Homo sapiens: one gene and its partners. The protein of the gene in region 1 interacts with the protein of each later gene in a biochemical or structural test. Each region holds a gene or a part of one and is shown in the gene's direction. Other genes may lie near its edges.

The links.
Region 2: the proteins of DAB1 (region 1) and PAFAH1B1 form a complex in vitro, tested with the Homo sapiens proteins (one study listed by BioGRID).
Region 3: the proteins of DAB1 (region 1) and SOCS7 form a complex in vitro, tested with the Homo sapiens proteins (one study listed by BioGRID).

What each region holds. Positions count from the first base shown.
Region 1 is NC_000001.11:57,018,461-57,022,060, reverse strand, and holds part of DAB1 (disabled homolog 1), read left to right. Parts: intron 1-3,600. UniProt on the Homo sapiens protein: Signaling adapter of the reelin-mediated signaling pathway, which regulates the migration and differentiation of postmitotic neurons during brain development.
Region 2 is NC_000017.11:2,591,531-2,595,355, forward strand, and holds the start of PAFAH1B1 (platelet-activating factor acetylhydrolase IB subunit beta), read left to right. Parts: upstream 1-2,123; 5' UTR 2,124-2,476; exon of another isoform or gene 2,477-2,864; intron 2,865-3,825. UniProt on the Homo sapiens protein: Regulatory subunit (beta subunit) of the cytosolic type I platelet-activating factor (PAF) acetylhydrolase (PAF-AH (I)), an enzyme that catalyzes the hydrolyze of the acetyl group at the sn-2 position of PAF and its analogs and participates in PAF inactivation.
Region 3 is NC_000017.11:38,389,732-38,393,556, forward strand, and holds part of SOCS7 (suppressor of cytokine signaling 7), read left to right. Parts: intron 1-3,825. UniProt on the Homo sapiens protein: Substrate-recognition component of a cullin-5-RING E3 ubiquitin-protein ligase complex (ECS complex, also named CRL5 complex), which mediates the ubiquitination and subsequent proteasomal degradation of target proteins, such as DAB1 and IRS1.

The sequences.
Region 1 (3,600 bases):
GAAGACAGGAAATAACATAAAAATAAGTAATTTGCATAATATATTTAAAAATGAGAAGTGATAGGGACAAAAGAAAATGCAGACCAGAGCATGGGGGCTTTTGAGTGCAGGCAGAGGGCAGGTGTAAGTGGAGCCCCTGTAGTCACGAGGGGCTCTTGCCTAGGTGACATGTGACAGGACTAGCAGGGACAGGAAAGTCTCAAGTAGGCATCAGAGTTCCAGGTACTCCAGGCAGAGGAATGACTTGGTCCCCCAAGTCTCCATTCCCTTCTCTATAATTGAGAAGATGGGACTAGATGCAATTTTATATCTCTTCCAGCCCTAACATTTGATTAAAAACACGCTGAGGACCTGCCTGGGTGTATTAGTCCATTCTCACGCTGCTGATAAAGACATACCTGACACCGGGTAATTTACAAAGGAAGGAGTTTTAATGGACTCACTGTTCCACATGGCTGGGTAGGCCTCACAATCATGGTGGAAGAAAAAGGAGGAGCAAAGGAATGTCTTACATGGTGGCAGACAAGAGGGCTTGTGTTCAGGGGAACTCCCCTTTATAAAACCATCAGATCTCATGAGACTTACTCACTACCATGAGAACGGTGTGGGGAAAACCACCCCCATGATTCATTTATCTCCACATGGGGATTATTACAATTCAAGGTGAGATTTGGGTGGGGACACAGCCAAACCATATCACTGGGTCAGTCACAGCACTGCTCTGGGCCCTCTTTCAAACCTGTACCAGATTAGGGACTTGGAAGACCTGGGTTTTAGTCTTGCTGCTTAACCAGCCACATTGGAAGCTATGGACAAGCCACTTCCACATATCCAGATTTCCTTTCTTTAGCTGCTAAAATTTTGATAGATTACCTCCAAGATTTCAACTTTTAGAACACGAGTCTAAAATTAATTTCAATTAGCATGTTTTTGCTTTCTGACTCTAGTTAATATGACAGAACTGGCTTCAGTTGGTGTTAAACTGTGTGCCCTATTTCTCCCTTAACTGGCCATAAAAATTTCTGTAGCTATTGAATCCCGATCTCCTTGTGACTAATTGTCCAGCCAGTGATAAGGAGACAGGGAAGTGAACTGGAGTATGTGATACAACGGATGGACTGGCTCCTGGGGGCTTTTGAATCTAATGGGCCAGGTTTGGATCCTGATTCAGCCATTATTTCTAAGCTTTAGACTCCTGGGCAAATTACTTGACCTGTCAGAGTCAGAGTTTCTTCATCTTTATAACTGAGTGTAAAATAATACTTACTTTGCAACAATATCAAGAGAATTAAATGAATCACTACATTAACTGCAGCTGTAGAAGTGGTATCACTACACACTGAAAAATGCTGGCACATCATCAATATTTAGTGTAGAATATGCTGTATTATTATGATTACTCTGATTTCTACAGTAGATGAATATATGTCCTGTTCTACCTATATTTTTTCCTTTACCTGGAAATTAGTGCCTGTAATAAAGTTTAGGTCTTCAGCCTCTTGACTGCTTATAGCAGACAGCAGGAGAATGGGTGGCCTGGAGAATGTACTATGTATGAACACAAGCTCTGCCACTAGCCAGCTGCACCATACTCAGATAAATATCTTCTGAGCCTCAGGGAACTTACCCCGTTTTAATGGGGATGATCATAATTCTACCTCATAGAGTTTTTCTAAGGATTGCATGAGTAAATGCACATTGTAAAATAGGTACAACAGTTCCTGGCAGTGCTTCCATCAGTAAGCACTCAACAGATGTTTGCTACATGGTTCTTCAGGAGCCTTGGATCTGCTATTCATACAGTGTGTAGCTGCATCAAATCTTTCCCTCATGGAGTTGCAATTTCTCCTATACAAATTAAAGAGATAGCAATCACACTCACCCCAGAGGCTTGTGGAAAGGATCACCTTCACAAAAATGTAAGCTGCACAGGGTAAGAATTTTTTTTTTTGGTGACTGTTTTGTTCTTTGTTTTGTCTCCACACACTAAAGCAGTGATTGGCACCTAGTGGAGGTATTTTTGAATGAATGAATCCATCAAATGAGATAATGTAGATAAGAGATGTCATACAAGTTCTGTATAAATGTTGGAGGAGTTCCTTCGTTTTTAGTGCTTTTCTTATATTTCAGTCTGCCTTTTTTTCTTTTTTCAAATAATGGGGGCATCCCCAGGTGTCAGCATCTGGCTGTAAATCACAATTTTCAACACTTTTTAAAAACCTAACTGTAAGGCAGCAAGGCAGGTGTTCCCTTTCACTCCACAGCAAGGAGATTTATGATTGCTCTGAACTTCACGGCATAAACAGATGCTCCTTAGTACCTCCTCCCTCCACTATTGGACATTAATTGTAAACAGTTAACAAGCTGTTAAGTGGCTGCAGTGGCAGCCACCAAGTGGCTCCCTCTGTCCAGTGCCACCACTGTCCTGCTGCTGACGTGTCCCTTCGCTCATGCACAAGACCATGTGGCCAGACAGCCTTAACTCACAGGCCGAGGAGAGCCAGCCTGCAGGGAACCCCTAGGAAAAGTGAGTGGGACCTGCAGGCTCCTAAACATGATACCCAATTACCCTGTGCTGCCTTTTTTCTTTTGAATATTGTACTTTGGTCTGGAGCAGATGGCATGAAGCCAGAGAGACATGCTAATAGCTCTCTCCAGAAAAGTGTGCACAGCCCATCTGTTAGCTCCTTGTGGAAAAAAAATAAAAGATGGGAGGGGAAAAAAAACCTGCCACCAACAGTAGAATCATCAGAGATCACAGCACTTATGCATTGTGGGTTTAATTAGACACCGGGAAAAATGCAGTGAATGTATTGACTAGGACTCATTTACCTTTATGTAGGGCCTTTCTCCCGTCCCAAACCATGCTAGGCAGGGTGGAAAGAGAGAGAGAATAAAGAGTTCCTGCCAGCAGGTGGTTTCTAGTCTCATCAGGGAAGATAGAACAACCAGGCAATTGCAAGGCAGTGTGACAAGTGTCATGATAGAGGTGAGCACAGGGTACTGTGGAAGCCCAGAGAAGGACCAGTGGTGCTGACAGGAGCAAGAAGCCATCCAACAGAGGTGATAGTGAACTGAGTCTCCAAGAGCAAATCAGGGTTAGACAGCACAGAAGCAGGGGGATGGCTTTCCAGGCAGATGGGCCAGCAGAGACAAGAGACAGCAGGTTGGGTTTTGTTTGCAAATGCTGGAGGGCAAGGTGCAGTGAGGATATGGATTGAAGATAGTGATGAAGAGGTGGAAGGAGCTGACCCCCAAGGACGCATAGCCAAGCTAAGACATCTGAGCCTTATACTTAAGACAATGAAGTACCATATATGCATTTAAAAACAGTCCTTCATGGCAGCAAGGAGGGTGGAATAAAAGCAAAGCCAAAAACAGGCTGATGTCAAGAGAGTGAAAACATCCACTCATTCACCAAAATGGGCATCAGGTCTTGGGTGATTGAATCTGTGGGTAGTTCTCCACCTGCAGACCCAGCACCCCCTTCTTATTACAAATATTTGCAATACCTCCTTTCACACCTTGAAATGAATTTCATAGATAATGTAGTCTAGCTACACAATTTTTCAAAATGAATATAATTCTCTAACTGTAGTA
Region 2 (3,825 bases), on another chromosome or scaffold:
GGATTGCAGGCGTGAGTCCCCGCGCCCGGCTGTTTTTCTTTTCTTTTTTTGTTTTTAGAGATGAGATCTTGCTTTGTTGCCCTGGCTGGTCTGGATCTCCAGGGCTTGAGCAATCCTCCCATCTCATCCTCCCCAGTAGCTGGGACTACAGGCATGTGCCACCACACTTAGCTAATTTTTAAAATTTTTTTGTAGAGATGAGGTTTCACTATGTTGCACCTGCTGGTCTCCAACTCCTTGGCTCAGGTGATCCACGGCCCCCCTCCCAACCTCCCCATCCCTGCCTTGGCCTCCCAAATTGCTGGGATTACAGGGGTTAGCAACCTGTGCCTGGCAGAGATAACCTTTCTTGAACAAAGGAAACTTGTTTTGGTATCAAGCAACAGTAATGTTTACATGAGTTACCTATAAGTCCCCACGAAACTAAGATACTTTACACAGGCTGCACCTCCTCTGTAATTCTCACAAAAGCCGGGTTAGTTATTAGGTGTCTTTTATTGAGAAACTGAGGCCAAAGAGAGGTATGGTAATTTGCCCCAGGTCGCGCTTCTGGCAAGTGCGGGGTCCAGGATTTACACCTAAGTTGTCTCTTTCGTTAACTCTGCTGCTTCTCAAATGCAGTATATATATATATATTTACCTACATAAAGTGACGCAATAAAATCAGTACACATAAGCTTAAGCCTGTTTCAAGAAAAAAGCTTCCTTGGACAATACAAATGAATGATAAGATAATCTCATTTAAACCTGTTATTAAAATAATAGCCCATATTGAATTATTCAGAACCCCAAATCTCGCTTTTTAAAAATCAAGGGTCGGCTGAGCACGGTGGCTCACGCCTGTAATCCCAGCACTTTGGGAGGCAGAGGCGGGCGGATCACGAGGTCAAGGGATCGAGACCATCCGGGCCAACATGATGAAACCCCGTCTCTACTAAAAATACCAAAAAAATTAGCCGGGCGTGGTGGTGGGCGCCTGTGGTCCCAGCTACTCGGGAGGCTGAGGCAGGAGAATGGCGTGAACCCGGGAGGCGGAGCCTGCAGTGAGTGGAGATTGCACCACTGCACTCCAGCCTGGGCGACAGAGCGAGACTCCATCTCAAAAACAAAAACAAAAACAAAAAACAAAAATTAGCTGGGCGTGGTGGCAAGTGCCTGTACTCCCAGCTACTCGGGAGGCTGATGCAGAGAATCGCTTGAACTCGGGAGGCGGAGGTTGCAGTGAGCCGAGATCGCGCCACTGCACTCCAGCCTGGGCGACACAGCGAGACTCCGTCTCAAAAAAAAAAAAAAAAAAAAAAGGAAAAGAAAAGAAAAATCATAGGTATCTGTGTGGAATAAATTAACTACAAATCCCCAAGACGACTCTTGTCATCAATATTTCAATCCATAATTTAGCAAACACACACAGACATCCCTTATAGGGATACAGTTCCAGGCCTTTCTTTGGGCATCCGTTTCGAGACCTGGAGAGACTCTGATGTCTGTGTGTGACTAAGGAGAAGAATAGCTGAATCATATCCAAAAGCGAGTCCTCCCAATTAAGAATCTATAATACAAATCAAGACAATGACAGCATTCCATCTGCCTTTTAACCTCAACAGCTCCTCCTCCCAAGCCAGCCAGCCTACTCCCCTCCCTCATTCCCCCCCAAACTGGGAAATCATCTCGGAGGCCGGAGGCAGAAAGGGGCGGTAGGTGGCCGGGCCCCGCTGCCTCTCGCGCCTCCCGGGGCCCGCCACACACGGTGCCAACGGGACGCCGCGGTCGGCCGCATGAGCGCAAAAGCAGGGCAGCGAGGTGAGCAGAGCCAGAGTTCAGAAGGGGCCGCAAGTCAGACGAGGGGCTGGGAAAAAAGAGCCTCTCCCAAGGTTAACAGAAGCGTGCGGAGCGTGAGAAGCAGCACCTCGCACGCAGACTCGCCCGCCGGCCGGGTGGCACCGCTCAGCCGCCCGCCCGCTAGAAGGCAGCGCGGCCCCGGCCCGGCCCAGCCCGGCGCATGCGCCGCAGCCCCTCCTCCGCTCCCGGCGCCCGCCCCTCCCTCTTCCTGGCGGGTCTGGGGCGGCGGCGGCGGCGGCGGCGGCGGCGCGGTGACGTCAGGGCGTTGGGGCAGCTCCTGTGACAGACGGAGCTGGAGCGGCGGGGCGGCGGCGGAGTCCGGCGGCCGGGAGAGCGAGTGAGCGAGCGGAGGAGCAGCGACACGGGAGTCTAGGGAGCGAGAAGGAGAAGGAGGGGAGCGCTCGGGCGCGAGCGAGAGAAACCGCGAGCGCCGAGCTTGGACTCGAGCCCCGGAACGGCTGAGGAGCCCGCCCGCTCCCCTCCCCTCCCCCTCCCCGGGCCCGGGCCCAGCGCGCCATCCTCCCCCCTCCTTCCCTCCCTCCCTCCTTCCTCCCTCCCCTCTCCCTCCCCCTCCCCCGCCGGTGGATGGGAGTGAAGGACGGAAGAGGCCCTGCGGAGGCGGCGGTGCAGCGCTCCGGTAAGGCGGCGCGGGTCTGCGCCCTCCCCTCTGTCTCCTCCACCGCGCCCGGGCGGCTGCAGGCCGGACCCGGCGGCCTGACGATGTGGCTGCGCCGGTCCCCTCCCTCCCATTCTCCCCTCCCCCTGCCTCCGCCGCCGCCTCCTCCTTCTTCTTCTCTCCTCGCTCTCAAAATGGCGGCCGCGACGGCCGTTGAGTGAGAGACCCGGAGGAGGGGGACTGTCCGGGGAGGGCGCTGCCCTCGCTCCTCTCCTCCCGGGCCCGGCTTTGGGGGCTGCCGGCGCCTCTGCGACCCCCGCCCCGCGGCCCTCCCCAAGAAGGGATCGCCCTCCTCCCTCGGTGACTTAGCAAGAAAAGTATTCTTGGGTTGGAAGGGCGTGGGGACCAGGTAGCTCTCTGATCTTGGGGAAAAGGATCGGCCCTGCTCTCCCCGGCCGCGGAGACGAGCACCGCAGTCCCCACCCCACCCTCAGTTATCGGCTCGGGGACCGGCTCAGCCCCGCGCCGCCGGGGCACTCATAGGGCCTTCCAGGCATTCCGTCCCCGACTGGTCCTTAAGATGGGGTTGACCAGCGGAGGGTGGCCCACCGTCTCCCTGGCCCCCGGTGCGGCGGTCCAGCCTCAGCACCCGCCGAGGAGAGGCAGCCCGGCCCACCGAGCAATCCGCAGCATCCACCCACCGAATCTGGCAGGATTTTCTTTCTGCCACCGGCTCCTCGGTCGGGAGTTGCCTTTTGATGCTGTTAACATTCAGCTTCGAGGCTCCCTGCCATTCCCCTTCGTCTAATCTCATCTCCCTGCCCCTTTGGGAAACGCAGTGCCTCTGCATATTTACCCTCTTTAGCCTCCCACATGAGAAAATGCCTTTGAGGTGGTCGACACATTTTGACTCTGCACCTCTAAACGTAGCAGTAGAGGGGAAGAGGTTTTCCGTATTTAGTAGGAGAGAGCAAGGTACCATAGCTTTATATGTTATGCTACCTTTCTTCAGTGACTTAGCAAGAAACTCCTTGGGAAGAGGGCAGGAAATTTTCTTTTGGGGTTTGGGCCCAATTTATATCAGTCTTTTGGTTAAGAAAATACGCCTTTGAAGAGGAGGACCAGATTTGTGGTCTCGTTCTCAATGGGCGATGTCATGCCAAGGTCCCCCCTCCCTCTTTCCTTAAGTGGCAGTCCGGACAAATAGAGATATTACTGATATTCCCATCTCTCCTTTAAGCACACAGTCTTGGAGTTTCATAAGGTTTTAAAGGCCAAACAAACAATTTGTGCCATTTTTGGCAATTCTGTTTTTGTTGGGGGGGTGGGTTATTTTGTGTGAATTTCTTTTCGAGGCTAGGGCGGAGGAG
Region 3 (3,825 bases), on another chromosome or scaffold:
CTAACCAAAGGTGATGGAGCTTAATGCCTATATTTTCTTCTAGGAGACTTAAACTTTTAGCTTTTACATTAGGTCTACTATCCGTTTTGAGTTAATTTTTGTTTTTTAATTTTTTTGTTTGGTGTGTATGTGTGTACATATATATATATATGTACATATATATATATACACATATAGAGAGAGAGAGAGAGAGAGAGTGAGAGAGAGAGAGACAGAGTCTCTCTCTGTCACCGAGGCTGGAGTGCAGTGGCACGATCGTGGCTCACTGCAACCTCCGCCTCCTGGCCTTAAGTGATCCTCCCACCTCAGCCTCTCAAAGTTCTGGGATTACAGGTGTGAGCCACCGTACCCAGCCTTGAATTTTTGTGTATGGCATGAGAAAGGAGTCCAACTTTATTCTTTTTCATGTGAATATTCAGTTGTTCTAGCGCCATTTGTTGAAAAGATACTCTTTCCCCATTGAATTGTCTTGGCATCTTTGTTGAAATCAGTTGATTGTAACTGTGAAGGTTAATTTCCGGACTCAGTTCTATTCCATTGAGTTGTATGTCCATCCTTATGCCATTACTGTCTTGATTCCTATAGTTTTGTAGTACTTTTTGAGATGGAAAAGTGTGAGTCTCCAACTTTGTTGTTTTTCAAGTTGGTTTTGACTATTTTGGGTCTCTTGCATTTCCATATGAATTTTAGGATCAGATTGTCAATTTCTGCAAAGAAGCCTACTGAGATTTTAATACCCCCATGTTGGCAAGAGTGTGGAGTTGAGTCAGTACATCAATTTGGGGAGGGAATATTGGCATGTCAACAATATTATGTCTTCTGATCCATGGACATAGGCTGTCTTTCTGCTTATTTAGGTCTTTTTAAAAACTCTTTGAACAATGTTTTATATTTTTTCTTTTGTTCGTTTTCCTTCCTTCCTTCCTTCCTTCCTTCCTTCCTTCCTTCCTTCCTTCCTTCCTTCTCTTTCTTTCTGTCTTTTTTTTTTTTTTTGTCCCACTGTCACCCAGTCTGGAGTGCAGTGGTGCCTGGCTCACTAACTACAACCTCCACCTCCCTGGCCCAGTGTGTCCTGCACTTCAGCCTCCTGTGTAGCTGGGACTATAGGCACACACAACCATGCCCAGCTGATCTTTATATTTTTAGTAGAGATGGGGTCTCACCGCATTGCCCAGGCTGGTTTCTAACCCTTTGGCTCAAGCCATCCACCTTGCCTCAGCCTCCCAAAGTGCTGGGATTATAGGTATGAGCCACTGTGCCTGGCCCATATTTTTTCATAATATAAGTTTTGTATTTCTTTTGTTAAATTTATTTTTTAGTATTTGTTTTTGATCCTATTGTAAATTGTTTTCTTAATTTTAATTATTTTTGGATTGTTTATAGCTAGAGTATAGAAATTTAATTGCTTTTTGCACATTCATGTTATATCCTGTAAACTTGCATAACTCATTTATTAGTTCTATTATGTATTTCTTTTTAAATTGTGAAATAACATGTATGTGGTAAAAAGGTCAAATAGTGCGCAAGGGAATATAAGGAAAAGTGAATCTTCTGCCCTCTCACCCCTGCTCCCACTAAGCTAAACTATTGTTTAGTTTTTCTTAAGCTGTTTCAAGCTGAAGAAAGGAGTGGGATATTAAAAAACAGTGCTTCACTGTTAGCTGAATATCTTTTTTTTAGACAGGGTCTTACCCTATCACTCAGGCTGGAGTGCAGTGGTACAATCATAGCTCACTGCAGCCTCAGCCTTCTGGGCTTAAGCAGTCCTCCCACTTAAGCCTCCTGAGTAGCTGGGACCACTGTTGTGCACCACAATGCCTGGCTAATTTTTTTAATTTTAATTTTTGTAGAGGTAAGGTCTCCCTCCCTATGTTGCCCAGGCCAATCTTGAACTCCTGGGCTCAAGCAGTCCTCCCACCTCAGCCTCCCAAGGTGCTGGGATTACAGGCGTGAGCCACCGCACTGGGCCTTCTTTTACTTTTGACCTTGTGCTTGTTTTTTTCTTCTTGGAGGATTACATATAAGTCAACTAGACTCCCTAGTTTATTCTCTTTTTACTTACACTGTTAAGAAAATGAGATCTGGAATGTGAAACAGATGTGATTCCTTATCTGATTCTGTCTTCAGGGGTCAGAAAAACCTTTGGTGTGGCAGAAAGACATGGGTATTTGGGTGTTTATACCTGGAAGAGATTTCTTACCCCTAACATGGTCTTTGTTGGGAGAAACGAAAAATAGTGCATGGCTAGAAACTAGGTTTGTGCCCAGGACCTCTGGCATGAGGACTGGAAGAAAGTTACTGACGATTAATGTTCGACTTCACCCTTACTCTTTTAGTCCCAGTTGGGTCTTATCCTGGATTCTTCACATTTTTAACTGCTTCTGTTAGCATGCTCTAAATGTGAGAGTTCTAATTGTTTGTTGGCGTTTGTGGGCAAACAGTAAATGGTCAGATTAATACCAGGGAATATCAGAAAATTAACAGGTTTCAAATTGCTATTTGTAAACCTAAAGGCTAAAAGTAATACAATTAAATAGGCAAGTATATGTGGTCATTAAAATTCAAGTAGGCAAACAATCAGATAATTGTATGTTGCATATTATCCTGATCTCTTTAAGCACAGTGTTATCTTTGGGAATAAATTATTAGATGTATAAATTACTTTTATCTCTGAAACATCATGTTGAGTTTACCAGTATTACAGCCAATCCCCCAAAGCTTTCTGTTTGCCACAGTTTAATTTACTAAAGAATATATAAATACCAGTGAGGGACAGGACAAATTCAAAGAGGCATTTGAACCCAAAATTATTTCTTAAAACCACTTGAGTTAAATATATTCAGGTGAGAAATTCACGTGTGAGTTCTTTTTCTTTTCTTTTAATGGAGAGGACCAGCCATGTGGGTAGAGGAGAGAAGTAGGGCTTCAAAATACAAGACTTAGTTTTGAAGGGGTGGGAGTGCCAGGGAGGGGACTAGGAGAGGCTGGTCATGAACCAGAGTGCTGTGACTGTCCTGGACAACCTCCCTGTTAGATGGGCAGAGGTGCAGGCACTCTAGAGACCCTCCTGGAGAACCCTGCTGAGAGGTTCCTCGGCTATGGCAGAGCTACCGATAATTCTTCCTTAGGGCAGGTGTTCAAGGCAGGCCGGCTTTAGTGGCTCCATGCCACAGCAAGTTCTCTAAGCTCAGTGGGCCTCAGTTTCTTTATATGTGAAATGGGGATGGTGGTGTTTGCCTCAAAGTATAGTTTTAAAGACTAAATAAGTTATCATTATTATTTTTGTTTTTTTTTTAGAGACAGGGTCATACTTTGTCACCTAGGCTGGAGTGCAGCGGCACAATCTTGGCTCACTGTAGCCTCGAGTTCCTGGCCTCAAGTGATCTTATCTCCTTGGTCTCCCAAAGTACTAGGATTATAGGCGTGTGCCACTGCACCCAGCCTGAGTTAAATGTTTTTAAGATGAGCTTAACTTGTTCAGTAACAATAAAATAATGTATTTTGATTTTTTTTTTCCCCTGGAAAGTATGTTGTCAGTGATCATGGAAAGGCCTTGGGATGCGGTGTACATGCTTTCATTTGTTTTGTTTTCATGCCTTCAAATAAAATTTTAAAACTATCTGGGCCGGGCATGGTGGCTCATGCCTATAATCCCAGCACTTTGGGAGGCTGAGGCAGGTGGATCACCTGAGGTCAGGAGTTCGAAACTAGACTAGCCAACATGGTGAAACCCCGTCTCTACTAAAAATACAAATATTAGCTGGGTGTGGTGGCGGGCGCCTGTAATCCCAGCTACTCGAGAGGCTAAGGCAGGAGAATCGCTTG